4 linked regions of the Homo sapiens genome follow. The protein of the gene in region 4 interacts with the protein of the main gene of each other region in a pairwise test. Each region holds a gene or a part of one and is shown on either strand. Other genes may lie near its edges.

Region 1 (7,677 bases), on a different chromosome or scaffold from region 4:
GTAGGGCTGGGCCCACAGAGCCTGGGGGAGTGTCACCGCCTTTGCTGCCTCTCAGTTAGTGTCAATGCTATGGGTTTCCTGGTAGGAGCCCTGCCCTCGCTCCTCTGCTGGATTCTAGTCCCCCACCCGACCTCACCGTCAGAGCTGGTCCTCCCTCGGCACTGCTCACAGCTGCTGCCTCAGAGCCTGGTGACCCTGCCTGCTCAAATCCGAGGCCATCTTGACCCAGTTTCACAGTAAGCCCCACCTCCTCCCGCTCCACCTCCCTCGGCCTCTCCTTCACCCTGGAAAATGGAGCAGGCCCTTGCAGAACACCCCAGCCCTTCTCACCCCTCCCACTGCAGGAAAAAGGAGCCAAACTGTCCCTTAGTCCTGGGAGTGGGGACCTTGACTCCCCGTCCTGGGCCCTCCAGCCCCTCACCTTCATTGGTGCCCAGGGCTTCCTCCTGGAGGCAGTCATCAGACCTGTCAGAGCAGTTCCCTGCCTGGAGAGGCAGTTCCCCACTGCCAGAGAGTTGGAGGAAAGAATGTGGATGGAATTTGGCATCTGAAGCTAAGTGATTCTAGGGTACCTCCCAACTCCTAAGCAAAATGGGACATGTCCTCCTGGCTAAGGAGGTTGAATGGGAGCCAGGGCTCTATCCCCTGCCCTCTCCTGACTGCAAGCATGGCTAGGTTTTCCTGGGCCTGGGATCCCGGGAGAGGACCAGCAATCTCACTCATCTGGGGCTGTTTCCAGGCCAAGGTGCCTTTCTCAGATCCTGTGATCCTCACTGAGGATTGAGGTTTGAGATAAGAGAGCTGGTTACCAGGAAGCAAGCAAGCATCCTCCTTCCACAGTGCCGGCGTGCAGCAGGTGCTAATATGACTTAAAGAATTTGTTCAGGGGCCAGGTGCTCATGCCTGTAATCCCAGTACTTTGGGAGCCCGAGGTAGGAGAATGACTTGAGTCTGGGAGTTTGAGACCAGCCTGGGCAAAATAGTGAGACCCTATCTCTACAAATAATCAAAAATTAGACAGGCGTGGTAGTGCGCACCTGTAGTCCCAGCTACTCAGGAAGCTGAGGCAGGAGAATCGCTTGAGCCCAGGAAGTGGAGGCTGCAATGAGCTGTGATCACACCACAGCACTCAGCTTGAGTGACTGAGTGGGATCTTGTCTCAAAAAAAAAAAAGTGTTCAGCCAGGCATGGTGGTACACACTTGTAGTCCCAGCTACTCAGGAGGCTGAGACAGGAGGACTGCTTGAGCCCAGGAGTTCAAAGCCAGCCTGGGCAACATAGTGAGACCCCCCCACCCAGCTCTTAAGAAAAAAAAAACACACATAACCTATTAAAGTTGAATGGGAACAGACCATGAGTATAGGTAAATTGTCATGTTTGGGGCCCTTTGATGCCAAAACCTGGATGCATTTAAGAATCCCTGGGCCAAGCCTGCTCCTAACACTAGAGAATTGAATTCCCAAAGGAGAGGAAGGAATAAAAGGTTCGGGGCACCATGCAAAGTGCTTTATGTATCTTGTCTCATTAAATGACCATAATCCTCTGTGAAGGACAGATTATTCCCATTTTACAGATGAGGAAGCTGAGACTGAGTTTAAGTAATTGCATTCAGTTCCAGGATAGGTGATGAGAAGGTGACTCCCAAGTGGAGCAGGGAGACCCAGTGGATTTCAGGCTCCCCTCAGCCCTGTAACCTGGCATCAGGATCTGAGGGCTGGTCTGAAGTCTGCCCTCGGGTGAGCGTGTCAGTGCCCCCTCAGACCATCCCAGCTCAAGTCCACTGCCCACCATGTGCCAACCCCCCCGCAAGCCTGGGACCCCTAAGCAACAAACCCTACATTGTTCCCCCAGCTGGCCCAGGCTGCGAGGACAGTGGCTCTTTCCCAAGGCCGCTGGCCTGCTGACTGATTCTGCAAGCCATTCACGTTGGCAGGCTTGGGAGGTGGCGGTGGCAGAGCCTTGGAGCCACCATCTCTCCCCCTTCATCTCTGAGCCGGCCAACCAGCAGGAGGGAGAGGTGGAGGGCACCCTTTGTGGAGGAGGACCCCTAAACAGGATGTTGAGGGGTCTGACTCCCCTGCCCTGGACTTCACCTCAGTTCACCCGGCCCCTTCCTGCATCCCTTAGGAAGCTGGTGGTACTTCCGGGCCTGGCAGGGGGGTGGAGAAGGAGTTGGGGAAATGCCGAGGAAACGGTCCCCAAGAGCTTCAGCACGACAGGCCTGCCTTTGGTCCCCTCTCCAACCTGCTCCCCCACCCATCTGAAGTTTCTACAGACAGAGCTGGGGGCTTCAGTCACCGTGGCAACAGGTCTGCTGAGAAACGGGTGGGTGTCACTCCCCAGCACAAAGGGTGTGTGCATGGCGGCGCCATCACCTAGCAACGGCCTCCCTCTCTCTTGGCGGCATCACCCGCCCTGGGGGTGGGTGCCAGGGAGAGAGAACAAGGCCGTTAAGATCCCCAGGAGAGGGGGAGGGAAGCTTGGGTACAGGGCAGGCTGAGGCCAAGGGGTGTGGGTGGGTGGACAGAGGAGAATGGAGCCCCAGGCGCTTGGAAACCCTGCCCCTGCCCATCCCTGGGCCCCCGGGGCCCTTCCTGAGGCCCCATGTGGATGCTGTAGGTAGGCCTGGTGGGCAGAAGTCTGGTGGGACCCAGGACAGAGCTTCAGACAGGGGGGGTGGTTCTGAGGAAAGCTGAGCTCCCAGGCGGGGAGCGACTGGTGGCCTGGCTGAGGCATCACTTCTGGTTGATGCTGTGCCAGCTTCCCAGGGACCTACAAGGCTAAGGGTGCCCTCTGGAAGGGACCAGAGGTGGGGCTGGGGGAAGTGGCACTTCAAGGGCAAGACCCCACAGGAGAAGCTGCATGAAGGGTCTGCCGGGGGCAGTGGGAGCTCTGGCGGGAAGGGTGGTGCAGTGGGGGCTGGGTGGGGGCAGGCCAGGGCAGGCAGCTGGGCCGTCTACAGGCAAAACAGTCCATTCTAAGAAACTGAACAAGAGCAGCTCTCAGAGTGACAAAGGCTGGGAAGCCCTGGGGCTCACAGAGGAAAGACCACTGGACTCCCTCCAAGGGGGGCTTTGTGGAGAGAGGGCATAGCAGAGATGAAGGCTCCAGAGGAGATATTTTCCAGGCTTTTGACTTCCCAAGGAGCATGGGGTTTAGGCCAGGATGAGGACTTAGGTCCTCCGGCTCCCCAAGCCCTCCATCCTCTCTGTCCCTCAAAAGCCATAAAACCCTTGGAGTCGCCAGGGCCACAAGGCTGTTCTGAACATCGGCCACAAGGCTGTTCTGAACATCAGCCACAGGCCAGGCCAGGTCAGGAGAAATTCTCCTAGGCACTGCCAGGCCAGGAAGGCCCAGCTGCATCTGGGCCCTGCCAGAATGTGGCACAAGAAAGTGGATGGGCATAGGGGTAGTTCTACCTAGTTTATTGTTTCTCAAGAAGGGCCTCCTATGGGAAAGCACCTAACAAGGAGGTTGGGACAGGGCAACCCAGGGATCCCAAAGAAAGGAGGAGGAAGGAGAGAGAAATCCTCTGGAAGAAAAGAAGGCACCAGTAGGAGGAGGCATCCAGGACTGGGACAGATCTGGTCCAGAGAAGAGTGTACTGGGGCTGGGCGTGGCAGCTCACACCTGTAATCCCAGCACTTTGGGAGGCCAAGGCAGGCAGATCACTTGAGGTCAGGAGTTCAACACCAGCCTGGCCAACATGGTGAAACCCCGCCTCTTCTACAAATACAAAAATTAGCCGGGTGTGTTGGTGCACACCTGTAATCCCAGCTACTCAGGAGGCTGAGGCAGGAGAATCGCTTGAACCCAGGAGGCGGAGGTTGCAGGGAGCTGACATCAGGCAAATGTACTCCAGCCTGGGCAACAGAGCAAGACTCCATCTCAAAAAAAAAAAAAAAAAAAAAGAAGAGTGTGGTGAGCCACACTGGGCTGGCCCCAAGGAGCCCCCATTCCAAGATGGGGCCCCAGGTTGGTGGTAGGAGGATGATGCCTGGGAAGGGCACAACTAAAGTATGGTCAGGTTCCAAGGCAGAGAGAGAGAAGAGAGACTGGAACCAAGGGAGGGCAGGCAAAGTTCTGGCTCCCAGCTGCTGGGACTCAGAGTTTCTGGGCAGTTCTAAGGACCTAGAAGCATCACCGCCCACCAGTGGAAAGGACAGGGTTGGAAGGCCCCACAAGGGACAGGAAAGGCCCTGTGTGGGGAGGGGGCTTTGACATTCCCAAACCTTGACAAGAGGAACCAAGTCCATCCCTAGACAGCAAGACAGGCAACAAAGCAAGACCTATGGGGAAAGAACAGCAGACACCGGCGGGGGTGGCGGCCTCTCCCTCCCTCCCCACCCCTACTGGGGCCTCAGCAAGGTGTGCCCAGGGGCAGGAGTGGGGGTGACTCCCTGGGCTTGTGGAAGTAGATGGAAGAGGACACCTCGGTCTTGAGCTTGTTGTCCGACCCATTGGCAGCAGAGGCCTCCGAAGCCCCGCCGCACTCCTCACAGCAGCAGCAGCAGCAGCAGTCCAGGAAGGCCTGGCCCAGCGGCCTGCAGATGCAAAGGAGCAGCACTGGGGTGATGGCGCCCTTGAAGAAGGTGGAGAACTGGTTGATGAGGCCCAGGAGGTCCAGGGTCTGGCGGGTCAGCTCGGTGGAGAGGTAGGCCACCACGATGTTGCAGACGTTCTCTGGGAGGGTGCAGAAGGCGTAGACCACGGTCAGGCCCACCACGGTGCTGTTGAGCTGGCTCTCACACTGCTCGTGCTTGCTGGCCCTGCACTCTGACTTCCTCCCTGGAGGGCCTCGCACCCGCCATGTCACCAGCTGGCAGGTGACTGTGAAGAGGATGGGCAGGCAGAAGTAGCAGCCAAAGTACCACCACATGCGGGCGTTCTGGTAGGTCATCACCAGTGAATACAGGGACTCGGGCAGGCTGGCTGAGGGTTTCATGATGCATGAGTCCAGGGTGCCCATGGTGGGGGCAGGCTCCTGTGCCAGCTGCCACAGCAGGAGCTCAGGCACAGCCAGCGTCATGGAGCCCACCCAGATGACAGCCAACTTGGCCAGGATGGATTGGCACCGCTCGATGGGCCTCACCTTGGGCAGGGTGCTGGTGGCCACGTGGAAGCGGTCAATGCCCAGGGCACAGAGGCTGAAAGTCGTGACTCCCAGAGAGGAGACCTGTGGGCAGGATGTGAGGGAAGAGAGAAGCACTTGGTCAAAATCTATGGGGACAAGGAAGGACACCTGGCTTCTGGCTCAGTTAGACCATGAATTGAGTGATAAGCATAGAAATTATAATAATGGGCCGGGTGCGGTGACTCACACCTGTAATCCCAGCACTTTGAGAGGCCGAGGCAGGCAGATCACTTGAGCCCAGGAGTTCAAGGCCAGCCTGGGCAACATGATGGAACCCTGTCTCTACTAAAAATACAAAAAAATAGCCTGTCGTGGTGAGGCACGCCTGTGGTCCCAACTACTCGGGAAACTTAGGTAGGAGGATGGCTTGAGCCTAGGAGGCTGAGGCTGCAGTGAGCCAAGATCACGACACTGCACTCCAGCCTGGGTGACAGAGCAAAACCCTGTGGAAACAAGGAAGGAAGGAAGGAAGGAAAGAAGGAAGGAAGGAAGGAAGGAAGGAAAGAAGGAAGGAATTATAATAATGGTAACAACTCCATTTAATGAGCATTTCCTATGGGTCGGGCACTTTACGTGTCATCACATTCCCAATCAACCACCTTACCATTGAAAAAGCTCAAGCTCAGGCAGGAACAGTGAATTGCCCAGGACCACACTGCTGATGAATGGCGGAGCTGAGGTTTACACACATGTCTGCCTCCTTCCCCCTTGTTCTTTGCCTCTCAGGCTGGGGGATGAATGGCCTGGCTCCCATAGACCCTGATGCTCTCTGACAGACTTTGGAAAATCATCTCCAAGGAAGAACCAAGATAAAGACATAGAAGTTCTGGATCTTTGCAGGTCCTTCCACTTCCCACACCCCATTATCTGCATGCCTGGGATGAATGGTCTTGGGGAACATGGCTTACGCGTGCACACACACACACACACACACACACACACACGCACGTTTCTGCTCCTGGCCCTGTCCGGAGAAGCCCAGGACCTGGCTGTGTGGGGAAGTGGCCCCCCTCTGAGCAGCCAGTGCCCACCATGCCCGCACTCTATTCATCAAGCGCGTGGAAAACCACCCTGTGAGCCAAGAGGAAGCAGCCCGAGCGGCAGGGGAGGAGAGTGCCAAAGAGCAGGAAGGAAGAGGGGACCCTCCCGCACCATCAGACGCTGCTCAGCCACACTCAGGGATTGTGCTCAGATCCCCCTCCTGTCCAAATTCTTCCCTCTTCTGGCTGGGGGAACACAATCCCCAGCTTTTAGCACAGCCACCAAGTGTTCTTTGTGGAAACCCCAACCCCCTCTCTTGGCAGGGGAGCCCAGGCCTGCAGAGGCACAGGCTTCAGGCTTGGGTAGAAACGCCATTCTCTCTCCTTTTTTTTTTTTCCGAGAGTCTCACTCTGTCGCCCAGGCTGGAGTGCAGTGGCGCAATCACAGCTCACTGCAACCTCCACCTCCCGGGTTCAAGTGATTCTCCTGCCTCAGCCTCCCGAGTAGCTGGGATTATAGGTGTGCGCCACCACACCCAGCTAATTTTTGTACTTTTAGTAGAGATGGGGTTTCACCATGTTGGCCAGGATGGTCTCGATCTCCTGACCTCGTGATCCGCCCACCTCGGCCTCCCAAAGTGCTGGGATTACAGGGGTGAGCCACCGTGCCCGGCCCTGCCCTTCTATTTTACATCTCAAAAATATCTCAAGTTTTATTCCAAGCTGCCCTCTCCTGCTCCCTCCTCAGGACCATCCTGAGATCCTCCCTATAAAAGGGTGTTGCTGGGCGCGGTGGATCACGCCTGCAATCCCAGTACTTTGGGAGACCAAGGCAGGCAGATTGCTTGAGCTCAGGGGTTGGAGATCAGCCTGGGCAATATGATGAAACCCTGTCTCTACCAAAAATACAAAAATTAGCCGGGCGTGGTACCACACGCCTGCGGTACCAGCTACTTGGGAGGCTGAGGTGGGAGGATTGTTTGAACCTGGGAGGCGGAGGTTGCAATGAGCTGAGATTACACCACGGCATTCCACTCTGGGTGACAGAATGAGACTCCGTCTCAAATAAAGAAGAAGGGTGTTGTGGGTGACAGAGTGAGACTCTGTCTCAAAAAAAGAAAGAGTGTTTTCTCCCTCCACCTGTCCCACCACCCAGCCTAGAAGGAAGACTGTCTACCAGCCTGTGGATCATCTCTATCCTCCAGGAGGTGTGGAGGGGCTGGCCCAGGAGGACATTACATATGTCAGGACCCACAGTCAGGTAGGGCCAGGTGTTCATTGACCTACCAGCCACATGCAAACAAGAGGTCGTATGTGTCTGCCCTTTTCCCCTTCTCCTCTATACCATTTTAATTCTAAGCACTGTATAGACATCACCCATTTAATCCCTTAAGAATTCACCCAGATAGCTATTATTATTATTATCCCCAATTTACCAATGAGGAAATTGAGATTTAGGTAGTTAAAGTAATCTACCAAATCACACAGCTAGTGATGGGAAAAGCCCAGTTTCTAATCTAGTCTGCTCAATTTCAGAGTCCTGTGTCTAAGCATGCACAGCTC
Region 2 (6,262 bases), on a different chromosome or scaffold from region 4:
GGGGACACAGAGGACAGGGTAATAATTCCACCAGGCACAACAGTAATATTGGCAGGGGCACATTAGGAAAATCAGGACGAAATACACACGATGTCCCAGGGTTTGTTTCACCAAACACTAGCTTCTGGGAAAGAATTTATCTTAGGCACATTTTTACATGACTTTTGTTCATGTTACAGTATGAGGCAACTCACGTGTCATTTTAAACCTTGGCTTCCTGCACGCCTCGGTAGAGAGGGACAGCTGGCTAAGCCACCAGCCCGAGATTCCCTGGTGGGGAGGAGTTAGAGCCGAGCCGAGGCACTGGAGTTTGGCAAAGCCAACCCATGCAAAATGGACCACTGAGAACACGAAAAACTCTCACGGAATGTTTCTTTAGTCCAACATGGAACTTTATCATGAATGATCAAACTCCTTTTATTAAGACTCTTAGAGCTGTGACAAGGGGCAGGATCAACTGCTCTGCAAGTCCCTAATTCCCTTTCGTTTTTTTCAAGTTCCATGAAGTGCAAGGTACAAACAGGTATCAAAGGAGTCCCACTTGGGTCAGTAGGTGTGGAAAGGAGCGGAGCTGACCCATTGCTGGGATCTGGCCATAGGCAGAACATTGTGGGAGAGATGGGGAAAGAGACAGGAGGGGGAGAGCGAGAAGGAGGAAAGGGAGCAAGAGAGTTAGGGAGAGAAAGAAAGAGATGGAGAGAGAGGAAGAGTGGGAGGGAAGAAGAGAGAAGATCACTCCAAACCCATGGTACTATCCTTGGGTTATGCCTGATATGCCTGACATCTTGAGTGGCCCTGGGGCAGGGTGTTGCGCTTTGAAACAATTCATGCTCTCACTTGTAGAAAAGGCCGACTTCTTTGGACACAGACACACATAAAAAAGAAACCAAGGCCATATCAAATTTTTCTTTTATTGTTCCAGTCAAAAAAAGAGGAACACCTCAATATGTAAACAGTTTCCCTAACACAGCGAGTTCTTAAAGATATATATATATATATATATTTTTTTTTTATTTTAAAAAAATTTGGCATTGTAGTGATTTCTCAATACATAATTTGTGCTTTCGCATTGAGCATGCTTTCGTCTCATTGTCCGTGCACAGACATACTTGGAGTTGAGTAAAGGGAGTTACAAAAGGACCAAAAAATGGGACAGGAGCCAAACCAGTACTTGAGCCCTACCTGGTGTTCCTTCCTAAAAAGCATGGTGGAAAAGTTGGCAAGATTGACCTCAGAAGCAAATCTTAGTGACTTTATTCCAAAGAAATCTTAGAAGCCTTGGTAGCAACTTTTGAAAGAAGCATTTCTTGTTTTCTTTCTGTTCATCCCTAAAGGATCATTGGTTTTGCTTGGAGAAAACTTTAGTTATTTTGTATGTTATATTTCTTAATATCCCTAAGTCCCTTCTAAAATAAACTCTTGTTTTGTGATTTTGCTGGACACATGATGGTTTACAACTACATGCTATTGAAATTCCACTAGTGATTTATTCTGCTTTTTGCTGAATCATTTCAAAGTGCTTGACAGTTGTGTAAAGACCTTTTGGTTTTGTCCAGTGAAAATTATTTTTTAATTCAATACTAAAGACTTCAGAGCCTTTAAGATGCAATGATGGGTTTATCAATAATACTGTTCATGCTATTCGTTTCTTAGTCCTTGTCCTTAGCCTGAAATTCTAAGTCTCTATAAATTAGCACCAGTTTTCCAAATGCATATTTTATCAAATCCTATGATCCTAGGCTGGTCTAGGTACCATCCCCCAATCTTACCTTGTGTGTTTCTGTTTTAAGACCCTCTCCCATGCTGGCCTTGCAAACTGAAATGCCTTTGCTTTTGGATCTCTCTCTCTCTTTTTAAAATAGAGATGGGGTCTTGCTGTGTTGCACAGGCTAATCTTGAATTCCTGGGCTCAAGCAATCCTCCCACCTTGGCCTCTCAAAGTGCTGGAATTACAGGCATGAACCATTGTGCTTGCCTGCCCTTGGATCTCTGTCTCCAAAACCTAAGCAGTCTTTGAGAAATGTCAGGGCAAATGTCCCTTTCTTCCTCATGAGGCCATTTCTTACTGCTTACGCAGAAACTGATCTACTTTCTTTACATTCCAGCAAATTTGTTGTGCCTGTCCCTCTTCGTTTAGGTATTTCTAAAACTAGACTCAGTTACTTCACGTGTGAAGTGGGAAGCAGTATTTTCTCACAGGGTTTTGTGTGGTTCGATGCACTTAGCGCAGTGTTGTTGCATGGTAAGGGCTGGCAGCCATGGGATTACAGGCTTGTTGAGGACAGTGGGGGATGTTACTTTTTCTCAGAGTCTTCATAGTAACTTGTCAAGGACATCACTCACTGTACTGCAAGTGTTCACTGAGTGCTCATGGCCAGCACTCAGGCAAGTGAATACACATTTGGAGTAATAAAATATGGGGCATCAGCTAACTTTCAGAATATTTTGAGTGGAGTTTTGTCCTTGTCTAGTTTTAGTTGCCTGTTGGGATCCCTGAGTATAAAAATACAAGTGTGTGCCTGCTCCCAGCATTGACGAGCTTCATGAACCTTGAAAATGGAACACTTTATTTCTCTGTAGGATGTGAGCATTTGATAAAGAACTCAAGTTCCTGAAAAAATTTCTGGAGACAAAGTTGAGGATCAAGTATCATCTGTGCTTCATTTCTTTTGGGAAGATGTGCGTTCTCTAGGTGTGGATATTGGAGTTGGCACACTGACATGCACCCTAATGACCCTCAGCTTGGGGACCCAATTCTGACACCTGCTGGGCTTTGCTTTCTTTGCTTAACTAGTTCTTGAAAATTCTGTGTGATGGTGAGAATAAGAAGTTCCAGGTACATAGAAACATGAATGTCCACAAACATGCAACCCCCAAACTAGATGCAGTCTTATCTTCAATCGCATAGATTCAAAATTAAAGAGACTATTGAAACCTTGGCACTGCTAGAGACTTTTGAACTAATAGCTTTCTGGAATAATTTTCTATCCTAAGAAATAGCTCACAGAACAACCCTATATTTTACTGGGCCATAGTAAACATTTTGGGCCTTAATATAATGCCATTTTATTAGGAAAGACAAATACAATGAATTATCTTATGATTAATAATGAAAAGTGGCCACTATTTTCCATTACTGGTATATAACTAAAATAAAGCAGTAGTGCTACGGTTAAAATAAATCAGCTTAATTAAAATATTATGGTTTAAGCTTTTTGCCTCCTTAATTATCCTGTCTGGTTTAGTTTTTGTTTTGTTTTTCTGACTGGGGCCCTAGGTGCATGCTTTAGGGAGGGTAGAGCTGGATTTGGGTTAAAAGCAAATTGTCAGTAGCCTGCTGGAGCTGAAGGAATTGCTCATGGATGAGCTGGCGAGATGCAGCCTCACATTTATTTTCTATCAATGATGCTGACCTTCCTTGGACATTTTTCTACTGCAGAGAAGACCACAGTGCATGTCCAGTAGCACCTCATTTATCTAGAAGGCACCTACCTCACAGCTCATCTCTCTGCTACCGGGTTTAGTGGTGGTAATGACAGGGGAGCAGGACGTGGTCGGTGGGTGCTGTTGGAGACAAGTGTGTGGCTGGTAGTTAATTTCCCTGCTGCCAGCAAGGGAATCAGTTAAATGATGAAAACAGCTGAGACTTAAAGCTGAACCATCTGGGGTCATTTAGTGTAGAGGTACAGTCTAGAACTGATGGTGGTGTAGGTTGGAATGGATACTAGAATTATTAAAGCAGAGACTATGGGGTTCAAATGTTTGTTGAAAAAGATGAGGAAACTACAGCAGATTAGTCTTTTTGCTTAAGCTTGCATGGAATGTTCATCAAGTTAGACTGCATTCTGGGTCATAAAACATACCTTAACACATTTAAAAGAATAGAAATTCTCAGATCACTTGGGATCAGGAGTTCAAGACCAGCCTGGCCAACATGCTGAAACCCCATCTCTATTAAAAATACAAAAATTAGCCAGGTTTGGTGGTGGGCACCTGTAGTCCCAACTACTTGGGAGGCTGAGGCAGGAGAATCGCTTGAACCCCGGAGGCAGAGGTTGCAGTGAGCCAAGATCATGCCACTCTACTCCAGCCTGGGCAACAGAGTGAGACTCTGTCTTAAAAAAAAAAAAAAAAAAAAAAGGAATACAAGTCCTACAATGTTTGCTCTTAGATAACAATGGAATTAAGCTAGAAATCAGTAACAGAAAGGTAGCTGGAAAATGCCAAAATACTTGGAGATTAAACAACACACGTGTAAATATCATGGGTCAAAGAAGAAATCTCAAGATAAGTGAAAAAATATTTTGAAATAAATGAAAATAAAAACATAGCTTATTATAATTTGTGGGATGCAATAAAAACAATGCTTAAAGGGAAATTTATAACATTGAATGCAGATAGCACAAAAGAAGATCTGAAATCAATCATTTAAGTTTCCATTTTAAAAAAGTAGAAAAAAAGAGCAAATTAAACCCAAAGTAAGCCAATGAGAAGAAATAATTAAAATTAGATTAAAAATTCACGAAATTGAAAATAGGAAATCAATAAAATAAATAGAAACAAAGTTGATTCTTTGAAAAGATCAATAAGCTCCATAAGTCTCAAGGCATGCTAACTAAGAAAAAAAGAGAAAGAACACAAATTACTACTATCAGAAATGAGAGCGGGGACGTTACTAGCAATCCCATGGAGGTTAAAAGGATAATAAAAGATAATGAAGGAATTTTATGAATGACTTTATACCCACAAATTTGATAATGTAGATGAAATGAACCAATTCCTTGAAAAATAGAATTTGTCAAAACTCACACAAGAGCAAATAGACAATCTGAATAGGTATATCTCTGTTAAATAATTTGAATCAATGGTTAGTAACCTCCCCAACCAGAAAGCACTTGGCCCAGATGGGTTCACTGGTGAATTCTACCAAAGACTTAAGGAAGAAATGATACTGATTATCTACAATCTCTTTCAAAAGCTAGAAGCAGAGAGAACACTTGCTAACTCATTCTATGAATCCAGCATCACCTTAATACCAAAACCAGACAAAGACATTACAAGAAAACTACAGACCAATACCTGTCATAAGCATAGATGCAGAAATCCTCAACAAAATATTAGCAAATCAAGTCCAACAATATATGAAAATAATTAAACACCATGACCAGGTGGAATTTGTCCTAGGTATATAAGGCTGGTTCAACATTCAAAGATCAACTAATGTAATGAATATCAACAGGCAAAAGAAGAAAAATTGCATGATCATATCAACAGATGCAGAAAAATCCAAACAGTCTTTCATGATAAAAACACTCAGTAAAGCAGGAATAGAGGAGAAGCCCCTCAACCTGATAAACAATATCTAAAAAAAAAACCTTACAGCTAACATCATACTAAATGGCGTGATGGTGAGAAACCTGAAGCTGTCTCACTAAGATCAGGAAAAAAAAGGTGTCCCCATCACTACTGCTTTTCAACATGATACTGGAAGTCCTGGCTGATGCAATAAGACAAGGAAAGGAAATAAAAATATATAGATTGGGAAGAAAGAAGAAATAAAACTTTGTCTTTGTTTACAGATGACATGATCATCTATGTAGAAAATCTGAAATAACTGACCAAAAAACAAAACAAAAACAAGCCCCAGAACCTTCCTGGAACTAATAAGGGATTATAGCAAGATTTTAGGATTCAAAGTTAATATACAAAGTCAATTGTTTTCCTATATACCGGCAATGAATAAGTGAAATTTGAAATTAAAAGCACATGATTATTTAAATTAGTATCCCTTGAAATGAAGTACTTAAGGTATAAATCTAACAATATGTATAAGATCTACATGAGGAAAACTACAAAACTGGTGAATGATATCAAAGAAGAACTAAGTAAATACAGAGATATTCCATTTCATGGAGGGACTCAATATTGTCAAGATGTCACTTCCCAGCTTCCTCTGTAGATTAAATACAATCCCAATAAAAATCTCAGCAAGTTATTTTGTTGGTACCAAAAAACTGAGTCTGCAGTTTATATGGAGAAAGAAAGCTACAGTACTCAAGACGATGTGGTGTTGGTGAAGGAATAGACAAATAGATCAGTGGAACAGAATGGAGAGCTGAGAAACAGACCCACACAAATATAGTTAACTGATCCTTGGCAAAGGAGCACAGGCAAAACAGTGCGGCAAAGAGGGTCTTTTCAACAAACGGTGTTGAAATAGCTGCACATTTGCACATCCACAGGCAAAAAAAAAAAAAAAAAA
Region 3 (7,677 bases), on a different chromosome or scaffold from region 4:
AGGGCTTTTCAGGTATCCTTGCCTCTTTGTCACAGAGAAGAGTTTACAGATTGTGAGACGGAAAAGTATAATTTTTAAAACCTTATAATATTTTCTATAAAAGTCACCTGAGGTGAAAACTTGAAAAGAATTATAATTTTCCAGAATGTGAGTCAAGAAACATTAGAGCAATTTTATCTTAGGAAAGAGGTCTTTGAATTTAGGCTGAAAGTAAATTGCTCTGTCTCCATGTCCTATGGTTATGGGCAAGTTTGGTACATAAATGAGAAATCCATCCAGTGGCCTTGCCCATCTCACTCCCAAACACCTGAAGAATGTAATGTTATATCTCCTAGAGTAGCAGCATGGTCTCCCTATGAAAGTCCTTCTTCTTTAAGGAGACTTCTTTCCCTTCCCTCCTAGGAGGATGAGTCAGAATCATCAAGAAAAATATGATGGGCAGAGGCATACAGTTTACCATTACCACTAGTTTAGAATTACTACTTAGCACTTTACTGCCTATTACATAGTTGGTGCTCAACAAATGTATGATAAATTAATGGTTGAGTTTTTCTTTCTTCTCCATATTCATCTTCCATGACACCACGAAGAGCAATGTTTTTCAAGAATGTTCTTCAAGGTTTGAAAGTAGCCTGCTTTAGAGAAACTGCCTACTGTACAGCCTCCAACCAAGAGGAAAAGCTGAAAAAAGCATGAAGGGATTTTGTTTTGTTTTGTTTGTTTTGGTTTTAATATGAGCATTCCCTGGCAGAAAAGCCAGGGGTAATCTCATTGCAACTAGGCAATCACTCTCAAGAAATTTTCTAACAAATAAGGAGGCCAATTTTTATTTTATTTTGAGACGAAGTCCCACTCTGTCACCCAGGTTGGAGTGCAATGGAATGATTTCAGCTCACTGCAACCTCCGCCTCCCGGGTTCAAGTGATTCTCCTGTCTAAACTTCCCGAGTAGCTGGGATTACAGGCTCCCACCACCACGCCCAGCTAATTTTTTGTATTTTTAGTAGAGATGGGGTTTCACCATTTTGGCCAGACTGGTCTCAAACTCCTGACCTCAAGTGATCCACCCTCCTCGGCCTCCTAAAGTGCTGGGATTACAGGCGTGAGCCACCACACCTGACCCAGGAGGCCAATTTTTAAAAGGTTAACTAATCTTCATGTCCAAAATGAATGTTAATTGTTCATTTTGGACATGAATGTTAATTTTTTTTTTTTTTTTTTTTGAGACAGAGTCTCACTCTGTTGCCCAGGCTGGAGTCCAGTGGCACTATCTCCACTCACTGCAACTTCCTCCTCCCAGGTTCAAGCAATTATCCTGCCTCAGCCTCCCAAGTAGCTGGGATTACAGGCCCACACCATCAGGCCTGGCTAATTTTTGTATTTTTAGTAGAGACGGGGTTTCACCATGTTGGCCAGGCTGGTCTTGAACTCCTGACCTCGTGATCCGCCCTCCTCGGCCAACCAAAGTGCTGGGATTACAGGCGTGAGCCACCGCGCCTAGCCGAATGTTAATTGTCTAAAAATTTTTCTTCTCCAATGTCTTCTCCTCCACTTTTTTCGGAATTTGTTTCTTCCTAATTACAGCGCGGTGTGGAGGAAACTGCAGCTGAGTGCCGAAAACTAGGCGTCACTGCGCATGCGTATGTGGTAGACTGCAGCAACAGAGAAGAGATCTATCGCTCTCTAAATCAGGTGAGACTGCAGGTTCACAAATTTCTTCAGATTATTTTGTTTCCTAGGACGCTGACGTGGAAAATGAGAAAGGTCTTTATGACTGCCTGATTTAAATTGGATTTTAGCTGCTAACTGAAGTAGTTATGTCACCAAGGAAGGATATATACTTTTTTTCTTGTATGTAATCCACTCAGCTCTGCCCATTATTATTGTTCATATTATTAATCAATTTCATTCTGATCAGAAGTGTGAGCAGTGGCACAGAGTGACTGACAAAAGATTTATCATCAGGGAATATGGATCACTTCCTAGTTTTGTTTTAGTCCTATTAACTTTGCAGTAATTCCAGCTTCTCTTTAATTATTTCCCTTGTGAGATTTTATTTTGGTGTTAATGTAGTCTTCTGTAGAAAATGTAATATTAATAATTATTATCACAATTATTTTAAAAGAGTAAATACCAAATAATCACAATGAACTAAGCACTCTAACAAACTTTACATTTTTTAATTCAATCCCTACAATAACTCTGTAAACTTCATTTTACAGATAAGCAAATTATGACTCAGAGAGGTTAAGCCAGACCCAGGTCATGTAGTTATTAGGTTATGAAACCAGGATTTCTCAACCAGCACTTTAGACCAGGTGCGGTGGTTCACACATGTAATCCCAGCACTTTGTGAGGCCAAGGTGGAAGGATCACATGAGACCAAGAGTTCAAGACCAGCCCAGGCAACATAGTGAGACCCTATCTCTAAAAAAAAAAAAAAAAAAAAAAAAAAAAGTTTAAAGAAAAACACATTTTTAAAAAATGAACACTTTAAAAATATTTGGTCAGAATTTATATAGGAATTTATCAACATAAATGTTAATTTCACTTTACTGATAAACTTGCAAAACATGATGTGCTGGGTACTGAAATTTAGATGTTAAAAGAACAGTTTATCCCACCTTTATGACAGTGTTCCCTTGGCCTCCACGATTTGAGCTCAACAGTCTGTCTTGCCTGAACTCTGAGAGACCTCATACAATAGAAGAAAGACTCTCATCTTTGGATTATATTGGTCCCAAAACTTTGAGTTTGAATAATACACCCAGTGAAAGTGTTCTTTCAATTTCAAAAGGTGAAGAAAGAAGTGGGTGATGTAACAATCGTGGTGAATAATGCTGGGACAGTATATCCAGCCGATCTTCTCAGCACCAAGGATGAAGAGATTACCAAGACATTTGAGGTCAACATCCTAGGACATTTTTGGGTGAGTGTGAGTCAGAAACATTTCTGATTTGTGCACCTTCTCTTAAGATACATGAAACTTATAACGGAGTTCACATACTTCTGGACAGGAAACTGGCCAGATCTTTGCCTTAATCAAGAATCATTAAATTTGTTTGAGTAGAAGAGCCACAGAGTCTCTGACACAAGGACACAGAATTCAAGTGGACACAACACACCAGAATGTAAGCTACTTGGTCTGTCTTGTCCACCAGTATCTGACACAAAGCTTGGCATGTACCAGGAGCTCAACAAATGTTTGTGGAGGTTTGTTAAGGGTTGTCAGTGTACATCTTTTCAATGCTGTCACTTGTGACTTCATTTTTTTCCCTCCACACCATGATTTTGTAATGTGTCCTCATTTTGTGGAATTTTAGAATGGAAAGGACATCAGAAGTAATTACTTGGATGTATATAGGATCGAGGACACTTTTGGACGAGACTCTGAGGCAAGTGTTCTAGATCCATGGGGTGCTGGAACTGAGAAATGCAGCTATACAGACCTCATATAATTGGTTAGTTTTGTGGGAGATGGAAATATCAACTTCAACTGCCTTTGTATAGAAATTTTTATGATTAATCTTCCAGTGCCTCAATATTAGTGTAGAATCTAGGGCAGATCTGGATTCTAGAAGAAAGAAGAAAAAAAAGAGATGTGTCCCCCTTACCTTTACCAGCTCTTCACATATGTGAATTGGCTCCCATGCCCACCAAACTACACGGAGACCTCATACATTAGCTACCTATAGCTGCATAACAAATTATACAAAACTTAGTGGTTTAAAGCAACAATGTATGTTCACTATCCTCTCACAGTTTCTATGGGTTGGGAATTTGGAGGTAGCTTGGGTTGGGAGTTCTAGTTCTATGAATTTGCATAGGATTTATTAAATTCTTATAAAATTTTATTGATGTTTCTCACAAAAGAGGTTTTTGGAAAAAAAGAAAGACTTGTTTTCTGTAACATCAACATATAATATACAATATTACAAATAGGGAGATAGTGAATTCAATCATGATTCATTAGTGTGGTGTAGAACTCTCAGCTTACACTACTCAACTGTCTTAATACAGTTACACAAGATTTCACTCTTTTAATTAGAATGATAAAGCCCCAAACCAAAAAATTATATGACACCAAATTATCATAAGGAATAATTTTAGTTCTGAAAACTCTGAATTTTTCCCTTAATATTGTTTAGATGACATATCCAAAAAAGGATCTATTTGATTCCTTCTGAAGGGAAGGAGGGGGAGTACTGAGATTAGTGTTGGCATGGGGCTTACCATACCAATAAATTTGTATCTTTATTTCTATCATTTGTAAAGAATTAATCATGGAATGCTTGGAAGTATTTTATTTCATTGTATAAGTTCTCTCAAATGCCTTTCTGTCTTAACAAAAATAAAACTACCTGATTTGGAAACCTAACGTCTATGTCATTGTCTTTCTTCTTTCTGCAATGATCCTTAAGATCACAAAAGCACTTCTTCCATCGATGATGGAGAGAAATCATGGCCACATCGTCACAGTGGCTTCAGTGTGCGGCCACGAAGGGATTCCTTACCTCATCCCATATTGGTAAGTATCACATGCCAGCCATGTTATATATTTTTATACTTTGAAGGGAGCATTACACTTCAAATTGTTACCACTGGAGAGTCCTGGTTCTTGGCATCTTGAACAAAGAATTGGACAAAACTCACCAACAAAGCCAGGAAAGAATGAAGCAACAAAAGCAGAGATTTATTGAAAATGAAAGTACGCTTTACAGGGTGGGAGTGGGCCCAAGCACAGGGGCTCAAGAGCCAATTACAGAATTTTCTGGGGTTTAAATACCCCCTAGAGGTTTCCACTGGTTACTTGGTGTACGCCCTATGTAAATGAAGAGGATGAATTAAAGTTACAGAGTCGTTTACTCAGTGTACACCATATGTAAATGGAGAGGATATTTCCTGTCATAGCTGGAGTGTTTCCATTTGATTTAGTTCTAGGAAGTCAGCATGAATCGGCCTTATGTTCCCTGCCTCCAGACCCTGTTCTCCTGCCTCAAGATTACAATGCTGAGAGCAGAGTGATTTGGATTTACAGAATTTAAATTTATAGTAGTTTAGAATGATTTTTTAAATGACTTTTTCTAAAACAATGAAACCAGGTTGTAATTATATTTAAGATATTTTTAGATTTCTGCAAACTCCTCTGTAGAACAATGAGAGAAAACAGTAATGCCAAGCATGTTTCCATTGTTTCCTGGAATAAGAAACAGAAACCCCACAGACTGAGAAGCAAAACCTACAGAAGCTAAAATGAACACATGTCTATGTCATGGCCTTGGTGCCCAAGATAAGACAATCAGAGTGGTCCCTGGATCAAAACATTTTACAGTGTGCTTGTGCCATGAAAGTGTGTGTGTGTGTGTGTGTGTGTGTGTGAGAGAGAGAGAGAGAGAGAAAACGACTCTACCTGACTAAAAGTTGCAGATACCACACTCCATGCACCACCAAAGACATAAAGGGAAGGAGGTGAGAGGCGTTAAGGATGTACTGCTGTATTTGCCAAATATCCTTTCCTGTAAACTCTTCTCCAGATCCTCATAATAAAATTAAGAGGCCAAAGTGGCAACCATTGTCAAGAGAAAAACTATCAACCATTGTCAAGAGAATAACTCAGTTATTGAGAGAGAGAGGAGAAATGAGCAGAGTCCTACAGAAGTCTGTCAACACAGATACCAGTTTTGTAGAATTTCTAAATGTATTTTTCCTGATTCATATTTTTCAAAATAAAAGCAGCAATAAAAACTGATTAGAAAACAGTTTGAAGATTCAATGGAAAAACCTTACATGTAGGATGGAAAACTGAACATTAAGCCAATCAATAGAGTTATTTTTGTTCTTTTGTTATCATTGTTGTTTAAGAAATGAGATACGTTCACAATTCTGCTTAATCATGTAAGAAAATGAAAATGAATTGCCATTTATACTCTCAGAAAAATCACAAGTGGCTGATTTTTGGCTTCCACTTGTTCTTAAGCCAAATGATACCGCCTTCTCACAGAAAGCTGAGGATTGGTTTCACTCTCCCTTAGCTAACAATGCTTAATAATTCTCTTACAGTTCCAGCAAATTTGCCGCTGTTGGCTTTCACAGAGGTCTGACATCAGAACTTCAGGCCTTGGGAAAAACTGGTATCAAAACCTCATGTCTCTGCCCAGTTTTTGTGAATACTGGGTTCACCAAAAATCCAAGCACAAGGTAAGGTCAAAATCAAGTTAGAATGGGTATGTGGTATGATAAATTGATATGAAAACTAATGAGAAATGTTTAGGCAGGCCAACTAATAGAAGAAAATGAAGAAGGAAAAATAATTTTTCTTATTATTATTATTATCTTGAAATTAAAGGAATAAAGGGGGAAAACACATTAGGGACTAGCAGGAATGATCAGCCACCGATGAACTGGGATATTTATTTGTGTCCGGGAGAAAGCACATACATTTGATCACCGTTACCACCCTGTCTTTAAAATGCAAATGTTCCAAGGACCAGCAAATAAATTGAGTATCTAGCTCCTTAGTCAAGGTGAATTTCTGCAAGAACTCTTGTCTCTGGTGAGACAGGATTTGAGACCACAAGAGAAGAAAAATTAGTCCTGAAAGGAGAAGAAAAAAGCAGGAAGGTGTGGATAAGAACCCGAAAATTAAGCCATCTGCTTAACAAATTTTTCTAATCCTAGTATATATTCTGCTGCAGGTTAACAAAATATACTAAGCTTAATGATTCGAAACCAATTTTTTACTGGAAGGGAATTAATCCTAAATATATTCATTCAAAAGAACTAAACAATTCTCTGTTGAGTGCCGCCTCATTTGAGGATACTGACTCTTACAGCCTGAGTTAGCTATGTGGTCTCTGCAGCTGGAATCACTCCCTGCCACTGGAGTCCTTCATGGTGTTAGACCATAGGTACTGTTGACTAAAGAAAAAAAAAAGTTTTTGTTTTTATTTTTGTTTTTTTTGAGACAGAGTCTCACTCTGTCACCCAGGCTGGAGTACAGTGGCGCGATCTCAGCTCACCGCAACCTCCGCCTTTCTGGGTTCAAGCAATTCTCCTTCCTCAGCCTCCTGAGTATTTGGATTACAGGCGCCCACCACCACGCCTGGCTAATTTTTGTATTTTTAGTAGAGACGGGGTTTCACCATGTTGGCCAGGCTGGTCTCAAACTCCTGACCTCAGGTGTCCTACCTGCCTTGGCCTCCTAAAATGCTGGGATTACAGGAGTGAGCCACCATGCCCGGCCAAAAAAATAAGTTTTTAAAGAATTAAAGGTCATCCTGGCTAACACAGTGAAACCCCGTCTCTACTAAAAAACACAAAAAAATTAGCCGGGCGTGGTGGCGGGCGCCTGTAGTCCCAGCTGCGCGGGAGGCTGAGGCAGGAGAATGGCGTGAACCCGGGAGGCGGAGCTTGCAGTGAGCCGAGATCGCGCCACTGCACTCCAGCCTGGGCGACAGAGCGAGACTCCGTCTCAAAAAAAAAAAAAAAAAAAAAAAAAAAAAGAATTAAAGGTGTTAATTTTATTTAGAAGCCTTACTGAAGACTACAGTCGGAGGCCTATAGCCTGAGAGCAGCCCTTTAGAGAGGTTCAGTTGAACTGTTCTGATAGTGGGGGCCATGTGCTCTATCCTGTATTGTCTTCAAAGCATCTTTCCAGAGAGCTGCACATTGTCACAGA
Region 4 (7,677 bases):
GAGGCGTCCTCAGGGGGCGGGAAAGCACCTGCAGCCAGGCTGGCCTCTGACGACCCTGCCTGGGCCACAGGGACCATCCCTGGCAGAGGAGACAGAAGAGCTTGGCTGGAGCTGAACTGGCCACCCCAATGCATCCTACCCACAGCTCAGCATCTTCCAGGAGGCCTCAAAAATAGGGCAAGGAAGAGGGCAAGGATGAGGAGAGTGGCAGAAGGACCAATTCAGGTAGACACTGTTACTTCTACACTTTTTTTTTTTTTAATTGTAGAGATGGGGTCTCACTATGTTGGCCAGGCTGGTATCAAACCCCTGGCCTCAAGCAGTCCTCCCGCCTCAGCCTCCCAAAGTGCTGGGATCACAGGTGTGAGTCACCACACCTGGTCTCTATACTCTTTTCTCACCACCTCTCCCTACTTTGAAATACTGTCACACTCTTACCAAGCTAAAACTCTTTCGATGGCACACAGCCACATCCCTCTCACCTCTGGGCCTTTGTGTATGCTGTTCCATCTTCCTGAAACACCATTCCCTCCTCTCCCTGACTTTCACTTGGCCAACTCCTACTGATTCTGCTAGACTCGACTGGGATGCCACACACATCGTCCCTGACCCCAGTCACCCCAACATGGCTAGCAAATGAGTCCCTACTTGTATGTCCCCCATGGAAACACATATCACTGTGTCCTGTCATTGTCTGATGACTGCCCATCTGACTCTAAGCCTGGTGAGGATAGGAATCTGTCTTGTTATCTCTTGCATGCCCGGAGCCAAGAACAGTGACTAACACAAAATGGGCCCTTAATAACTGTTTGCTGGCCAGGCGCAGTGGCTCATGCCTGTAATCCCAGCACTCTGGGAGGCTGAGGCGGGTGGATCACGATCCTGGCTAACACGGTGAAACCCGGTCTCTACTAAAATATAAAAATTAGCCGTGTGTGGTGGTGCACGCCTGTAATCCCAGCTATTTGGGAGGCTGAGGCAGGGGAATCACTTGAACCCGGGAGGCAGAGGTTGCAGTGAGCTGAGATCGCACCACTGCACTCCAGCCTGGCGACAGAGCAAGACCCAGTCTCAAAAAAAAATAAAAATAAATAACTTTGCTGGAGGACTAAAGAGGGGGTCGTGGTGGGCAGGGCTGCTCAGGGGCTATGTGGGCTGTTGGGGGGCTACCTTCTTGGGGTGGCACACAGTAGGCAGGAACCTCATCTGCCTCTCCAGACTCAGGATCGGATGAGAAGGAGTCATCAGTGGCCCAGCCGGCAGAGGGCGGCTCGATGAAGCTGTGGTTGAAGGGGACCTCCGGGTCGTGATGTGAGACTGTAGAGACTCCAGATCAGGCGCCTGCAGGACCTGATGCAAAGCCCTGTCCAATCCCAGACCCCGGCCCCCAGCGCCCACTGACCTGTCACCCAGGGTAGCTTGTGGGAGCTGAGGGAACGGCAGGGCAGCGTGGAGCCCAAGCTGGTCAGTGTCCCCCAGACCTGCAGCTTCATCCTGGACACGGTAGCTCCATCTCTCGCTGGCCTGAGGGAGGAGGGTAGGGACACTGGTCAGTACATGAGACCCACGGTGACCTGGGTCACCTTGGCAGGGTGTGACAGGGTGACTGCCTCTACTTCAGTGGCTTCAGTGGCTCTCTATTGACTACAGAATAAAATCCAAATGATTGAGCCCACAATTCAGGCCTGCCACAGAACAAAGAGTGGCTCTAGAGTCAGACAGCCGAGTAACAACTCTGGTTCACACTTCACCTCCCTAGGCCTCAGTTTCCGCATCTGTAAAACAGATCCTATCTATCTATCTATCTATCTATCTATCTATCTATCTATCTATATCTATCCATCTATCTATCATCTATCTGAGCTTTTTGCAGGACCTGGCAGGTCTTTGTTATTATCATCCTAGCTGAGCCTCAGCTCACGTTTCTCTCTCTCTCTCTCTCTCTATTTTTGGGACAGAGTCTCGCTTTTGTTGCCCAGGCTGGAGTGCAGTGGTACGATCTTGGCTCACCGCAACCTTCGCCTCCTGGATTCAAGTGATTCTCCTGCCTCAGCCTCCTGAGTAGCTGGGATTACAGGCGTGCACCACCACACCCGGCTAATTTTGTATTTTTAGTAGAGACGGGGTTTCACCATGTTGGCCAGGCTGGTCTTGAACTCCTGACCTCAGGTGATCCACTCACCTTGGCCTCCCAAAGTGCTGGGATTACAGGCGTGAGTCACTGCGCCCGGCGCACCTGTCTCAAATGACACCCCCTCCAGGAAGCCTTCCCTTGTTCCCACTCTGCTCTACCCCCACATGTGGAGGAGACTGCTCTGCTCTTCACTGTTCCTCCAACAGCCTTTGCACCTGTCCTCGTGTCCCTGCGAGGGGCTTCTTCCCACCCTGGGCTCTATGCCCTGGGCCAGGGGCAACTGTATCTGCTCCTCTGTGAATGCCGCACAAGCACAGAGGAGGATGTGCTATTGGACTAGGGCAGGAACTAGTAAGAGAGCACCAGACAAAGAGTCCAAAAAGGTGGAGAGGGGCTTCCTGTGTGCCAGTACCAACTAGATCACCTTGGGCCTCAATGTCCTCTGGGAATTGAGGACATTTATCCTCCCGGCCCCACACTCCCTGTTCCAAACCTCCACGCTGCTGTGAGTCTCAAAGGAGCCTGGAATGTGACGAGGTTTCATAAAGGAACAAAGCTCTGCGTAAGCCCCCTGCGCGGGCCCCACCAGCCCAACCCTTCCTCCCCTCTCCGTCTCTCAGGCAGCTACACTCTCTGCTAAACCACTGCACAGACATTGATGTCTCTTTCCTTCGTGGGCCATCTGAGGCCTGGTCTCTTTCCCTCCTGGCCCAGAGCCGGGCTGCTCCTTCCGTGGTCCCAGCCCTCCTCCTCTGGTCCCCGCCGGTGTCAGCTTTCTGCCTCCCGCTGCAGGCTCCGGTTCGCCAGCCTGGTGCCCATGCAACTCAGAAACTTCCTCATTGAAGGCTTCCGAGGAGGGCAGGCAGCTGACCCGGTGTCTCCAGTGTCTCCAGGCCACGGGCACTGCCAACTACCTCCATCACCTCTGACCTACGTGGGCGACAAGGCCAGCCCTCCCCACCCCCATCACCTCTGACCCACGGGGGCGACAAGGCCAGCCCTCCCCACCCCCATCACCTCTGACCCACGTGGGCAACAAGGCCAGCCCTCCCCACCCCACAAGGAAACCAGATGCCCCCCTGCTCCCACCCTGTGGCCTGAGCTGTGTGGGGAAGGGACGGGCTGGCGTTCACCTGTCCTTGAGGTCTGATCGGGGGGCCCAGCAGCAGCAGGCACAGCAGGCAAGGCCCAGGAAGAGCAGCAGCAGAGGCACAAGGCTGCCCGCGATGAGGGCAGTGTCCCGACTGCCAGAGCCTGGGGGAGCCAGAAACGGGGGATATTCAGGCCTTCCTGTCTCCTACACATCCTGTCTTTGCTCTGAGTTGCCTGCTACCCAGAAGCTTCTTCCTGGGGGTCACTCCCTGCCTCCGGGCAGCCCCTCTGCTGGCGTGTCCCCTCCACAGGTTCTTGCCCCTGAGGCCATGTCAGTGTCCAGCCACCCCGCTGCCCATTTCACGGCTCTAGCCTGGTTTCGCAGGGGCGGGGGCTCTGTCACATCTTCAGGGGGCCCCAGAGCATCCACACAGAGCTCAGGTATAAAGAATGTCTCTGGGCCGGGCACAGTGGCTCACGTCTGTAATCCCAGCACTTTGGGAGGCCGAGGTGGGCAGATCACCTGAGGTCAGGAGCTTGAGACCAGCCTGGCCAACATGGTGAAACCCTGTCTCTACTAAAATATAAAAATTAGCCAGGCATGGAGGCGTGCGCCTGTAATCCCAGCTACTCGAGAGGCTGAGATGGGAGAATGGCTTGAACCTGGGAGGTGGAGGTTGCAGTGAGCTGACATCACACCACTGCACTCTGGCCTGGGTGACAGAGCAAGACCTCGTCTTAAGGGAAAAAAAAAAAAAAAAAAGAATATCTCTGAAGTGGGCCCAGACTCCCTGGTGAGGAACTTGCCCTGGAGCCCATGTGAAGGGCCCGCCTTTCCCTGGCTACTGCACCCCGCAGCCTTCTTCCACCTTACCTGGCTGGCAGGACCCAGAGACAGGGTGGCAGAGTCCCTCTGGGCATTCACAAGGAACTGAGCAGTTGTTTCCATGGAAACCGGCTGGGCAGGAGGCGTTGCAGCTATGGAGTGACATGGAGAGGCAGGCTGAGGGCTGGGTGAAGTGGGGGAGGCAGGCAGGAGACGGGCAGGGAGATTTCTGGGCACTGTCCAGGGAAGTTCAGGAAATGCTGCACAGAGCCCTGACCTAGGCCCCTGGCACTCTCCCGCCCCCGGGATCCCCATCCTTACCTGGGCCCCCAGTAGCCGGCACTGCAGACACAGTCCCCTGTCACAGTATCACAGGACCCCTGAACACAGGTGGGGCAGGTAGAGCCACAGTCTTCCCCAAAGGTACCAGTGGGGCAGGGGTCTTCACACCTGGGGTGAGGCAAGACTCGGGGAAGGGGAGACCAAGGCAGGCCTGGCCCCCACTGTGGGGCCCCACCCCTCCGCCCCACGCTCCTGGACTCAAGGACCCAACTGGCCACTCCTCAGCAGTGAAGCTCAGGTGCAAATAGGGCCTTGAACTTGGGGCCAAATCCAGCAGGTGACAGACTACAAGTCCCCAGAGGGCGAGGAGGGCAGGAAGCCTCAGAGGGGAGGGAGCTGGGATCCTGCCCAGGCCCCCCCAGAACCCACTGCTCTCCCCCAGTCTTCAACAGGAGGGAGGCCCCTGGGGCCGCATGAACCTGTGTGTCGGGGAGGGTGGTGCTCTCGGAGAGAGCCGCTGAGCTGAGGGTCCTGGGGGAAGGTGTACCCCACCCTGAACAGAATGGTGCCCTCACCTGGGCCCCAGCCAGCCAGGGTCACAGCGCTGACAGTGGCCAGTATCTGGCTCACAGGCCTCCCCATGTCGGCAGTGAGGGCACTGCTGTTCGCAGCTCTCGCCAAAGGTGCCAGGCAGGCAGGGCTGCTGGCACTGGGTCCCGTTCCAGCCCGGCTCGCAGGACTCACAGCTGCCTGTGTCTGGAGAGCACGGCTCATTGTGTTTGCAGCGGCCACAGCTGGGAAGAGAAGGGCTTCGTGGGAACAGTGGGGGTGGATGGATGGAGCGCCCACCCCCTCCTACCCCTGTACTCCACGCAGGCCTTCGGGGGCCCTGGAGAGTGTTCGGGTCCCACCTGGGTCAGGCAGGTTTGAGCCTCAGTTTCCCCACGTTGTACAATGAGGACAAATGAGGGCTCTTACAGGATCCCATCCCTTTCCTTCCAGGCATCTGCTCTGTGACCGTCTTTCCCTGGGTCCCAGGACCATCAGGAGCCAGCAGCCCAGCCAGGGCAGGCGAGTCACCACCAAGCTCTGAGTCCCATTTGCGAGGTCTGCCAGGCCTTCCCTCCTGCTCTTTTCACTTTTCCTTTTTCCACACTGAGCCGTCCCCAGGTCTGGCATGAATGGGACTCAGTAGTGTCTTCTACCCCATCACACGAAATGCAAAAAATGTAAAGTGTTTTCACCCAGGGGTCCTCAAACCCTGGGCCATGGACTGGTACTAGTCCGTGGCATGTTAGGAACTGGGCGACAGCGTAGAGATGACCAGCAGGGGAGCCTGACCGCCTGAGCTCCGCTGCCAGCCAGATCAGTGGTGGCCTCAGATTCTCATAGGAGCGCCAGTCCTATTGTGAACTGCGCACGGGAGGGTCCAGGTTCCATGCTCTTTACGAGGATCTAATGCCTGATGATCTGTCACTGTCTCCCATCACCCCCAGATGGGACCCTCGAGCTGCGGGAAAGCAAGCTCAGGGCTCCCACTGATTCTATATTATGGTGAGTCATATTATTATTTCATTATAGATTACAGTGTAATAATAGAAAAATTGTCTGCCATGAAACCAGTCCCTGGTGCCAAAAGGTTGGAGACCACTGTTGTCACCAATATAATTTCACATTTGCCATATCTTAATTTCCCATTGATGCCTAATAGTTACCTGAAGTTTCTCCCTCAGATGCTTAACTAGCTGGGATCATATACTTGGGTCAGACCCATTAGTAGGGGAGAAGAAGGGCAGTTTATAAAAGCCATTTAGCTGATCCTGACCAGCATTTTTATTTCTTATTTTATTTTATTATTATTTTCTTCAAGACTGAGTCTCACTCTGTCGCCCAGGCTGGCGTGCAGTGGCGCGATCTTGGCTCACTGCAACCTCCGCCTCCCGGGTTCAAGTGATTCTCCTGCCTCAGCCTCCCAAGTAGCTGGGATTACAGGCGCCCAACACCATGCCCGGCTAATTTTTGTATTTTTAGTAGAGACGAGGTTTCACCATGTTAGCCAGGCTGGTCTCGAACTCCTGACCTCAGGTGATCCGCCCGCCTCGGCCTCTCAAAGTGCTGGGATTACAGGCGTGAGCCACCGCGCCCAGCCAGGGATGAAATTTCTTACTGTGAGTGCAGCCAGTCAAAGTTTGAAAGCCACTGAGCCCTAAAGGGACCTTGCTCAGGACCCTTGGTCACTCGATCCACTTATTTATTATTTTTTTTGTAAGAAACCATTTTTTTAATTTTCTTTTTTTAAATATATTTATATATATTTTTTTATTATTATACTTTAAGTTTTAGGGTACATGTGCACATTGTGCAGGTTAGTTACATACGTATACATGTGCCATGTTGGTGTGCTGCACCCACTAGCTCGTCATCTAGCATTAAGTATATCTGCCAATGCTATCCCTCCCCCCTCCCCCCACCCCACAACAGTCCCCAGAGTGTGATATTCCCCTTCCTGTGTCCATGTGATTCCATTGTTCAACTCCCACCTATGAGTGAGAATATGCGGTGTTTGGTTTTTTGTTCTCGCGATAGTTTACTGAGAATGATGATTTCCAATTTCTTCCATGTCCCTACAAAGGACATGAACTCATCATTTTTTATGGCTGCATAGTATTCCATGGTGTATATGTGCCACATTTTCTTAACCCAGTCTATCATTGTTGGACTCGATCCACTTATTACCTACATATGGCTTGCTAGCAGTGCTAGTATATTTTGCACAGCAGTAATCAATGAAATGAGCAGGTGAGGCTGGACCTGGGGCAACAAAGCGTTTTTAAAAGTTTTTGTTTTGTTTTGTTTGAGACGGAGTCTTGCTCTCTGGCCCAGGCTGGAGTGCAGTGGTGCGACCTCGGCTCACTGCAACCTCCGCCTCCAGGGCTCAAGCGATTCTCCTGTCTCAGCCTACCGAATACCTGGGACTACAGGCGCAGCCCGGCTAATTTTTGTGTTTTTAGTAGAGACGAGGTTTCAGCATGTTGGCCAGGATGGTCTCGAACTCCTGACCTCAGGTGATGCACCCGCCTCAGCCTCCCAAAGTGCTGGGATTACAGGTGTGAGCCACCCCACCTATCCGACTTTTCCCCTTTCTCGTTCCTCTGCTTTGTATGTTTTTTGAGAGGAGCACCGCGAAGCCCTGACCCCTCCTCCCGGCGCCCCGCCGCGGCCACCTGTCTCCGCTCCGCCCCGCCCGCTCACAGGTCTCCGCGCAGCCTCGCTCACCTGTGTCCGCCTCCGCCCCCTCCCCCGACCGCTCACCTGTGCCCGCCCCGCCCCCACCCTGCCCGCT

The links.
Region 1: the proteins of SCARF1 (region 4) and GPR37L1 interact in binary tests that used the Homo sapiens proteins (3 or more experiments, as listed by UniProt).
Region 2: the proteins of SCARF1 (region 4) and KCNJ6 interact in binary tests that used the Homo sapiens proteins (3 or more experiments, as listed by UniProt).
Region 3: the proteins of SCARF1 (region 4) and HSD17B13 interact in binary tests that used the Homo sapiens proteins (3 or more experiments, as listed by UniProt).

What each region holds. Positions count from the first base shown.
Region 1 is NC_000001.11:202,125,240-202,132,916, reverse strand, and holds part of GPR37L1 (G-protein coupled receptor 37-like 1 precursor), read right to left. Parts: intron 7,376-7,677; exon of another isoform or gene 7,199-7,375; intron 5,177-7,198; coding exon 4,361-5,176; 3' UTR 1-4,360. UniProt on the Homo sapiens protein: G-protein coupled receptor. Has been shown to bind the neuroprotective and glioprotective factor prosaposin (PSAP), leading to endocytosis followed by an ERK phosphorylation cascade. However, other studies have shown that prosaposin does not increase activity.
Region 2 is NC_000021.9:37,606,481-37,612,742, forward strand, and holds the end of KCNJ6 (G protein-activated inward rectifier potassium channel 2), read right to left. Parts: 3' UTR 893-6,262; downstream 1-892. UniProt on the Homo sapiens protein: Inward rectifier potassium channels are characterized by a greater tendency to allow potassium to flow into the cell rather than out of it.
Region 3 is NC_000004.12:87,312,343-87,320,019, reverse strand, and holds part of HSD17B13 (17-beta-hydroxysteroid dehydrogenase 13 isoform A precursor), read left to right. Parts: intron 1-1,583; coding exon 1,584-1,691; intron 1,692-2,796; coding exon 2,797-2,928; intron 2,929-4,420; coding exon 4,421-4,527; intron 4,528-6,059; coding exon 6,060-6,197; intron 6,198-7,677. UniProt on the Homo sapiens protein: Plays a pivotal role in hepatic lipid metabolism. In vitro, it catalyzes the oxidation of a variety of lipid substrates, including 17beta-estradiol, retinol, retinal, and leukotriene B4.
Region 4 is NC_000017.11:1,635,539-1,643,215, forward strand, and holds part of SCARF1 (scavenger receptor class F member 1 isoform 1 precursor), read right to left. Parts: intron 5,129-7,677; coding exon 4,910-5,128; intron 4,503-4,909; coding exon 4,374-4,502; intron 4,205-4,373; coding exon 4,101-4,204; intron 3,389-4,100; coding exon 3,268-3,388; intron 1,525-3,267; coding exon 1,403-1,524; intron 1,318-1,402; coding exon 1,171-1,317; intron 80-1,170; coding exon 1-79. UniProt on the Homo sapiens protein: Mediates the binding and degradation of acetylated low density lipoprotein (Ac-LDL). Mediates heterophilic interactions, suggesting a function as adhesion protein. Plays a role in the regulation of neurite-like outgrowth.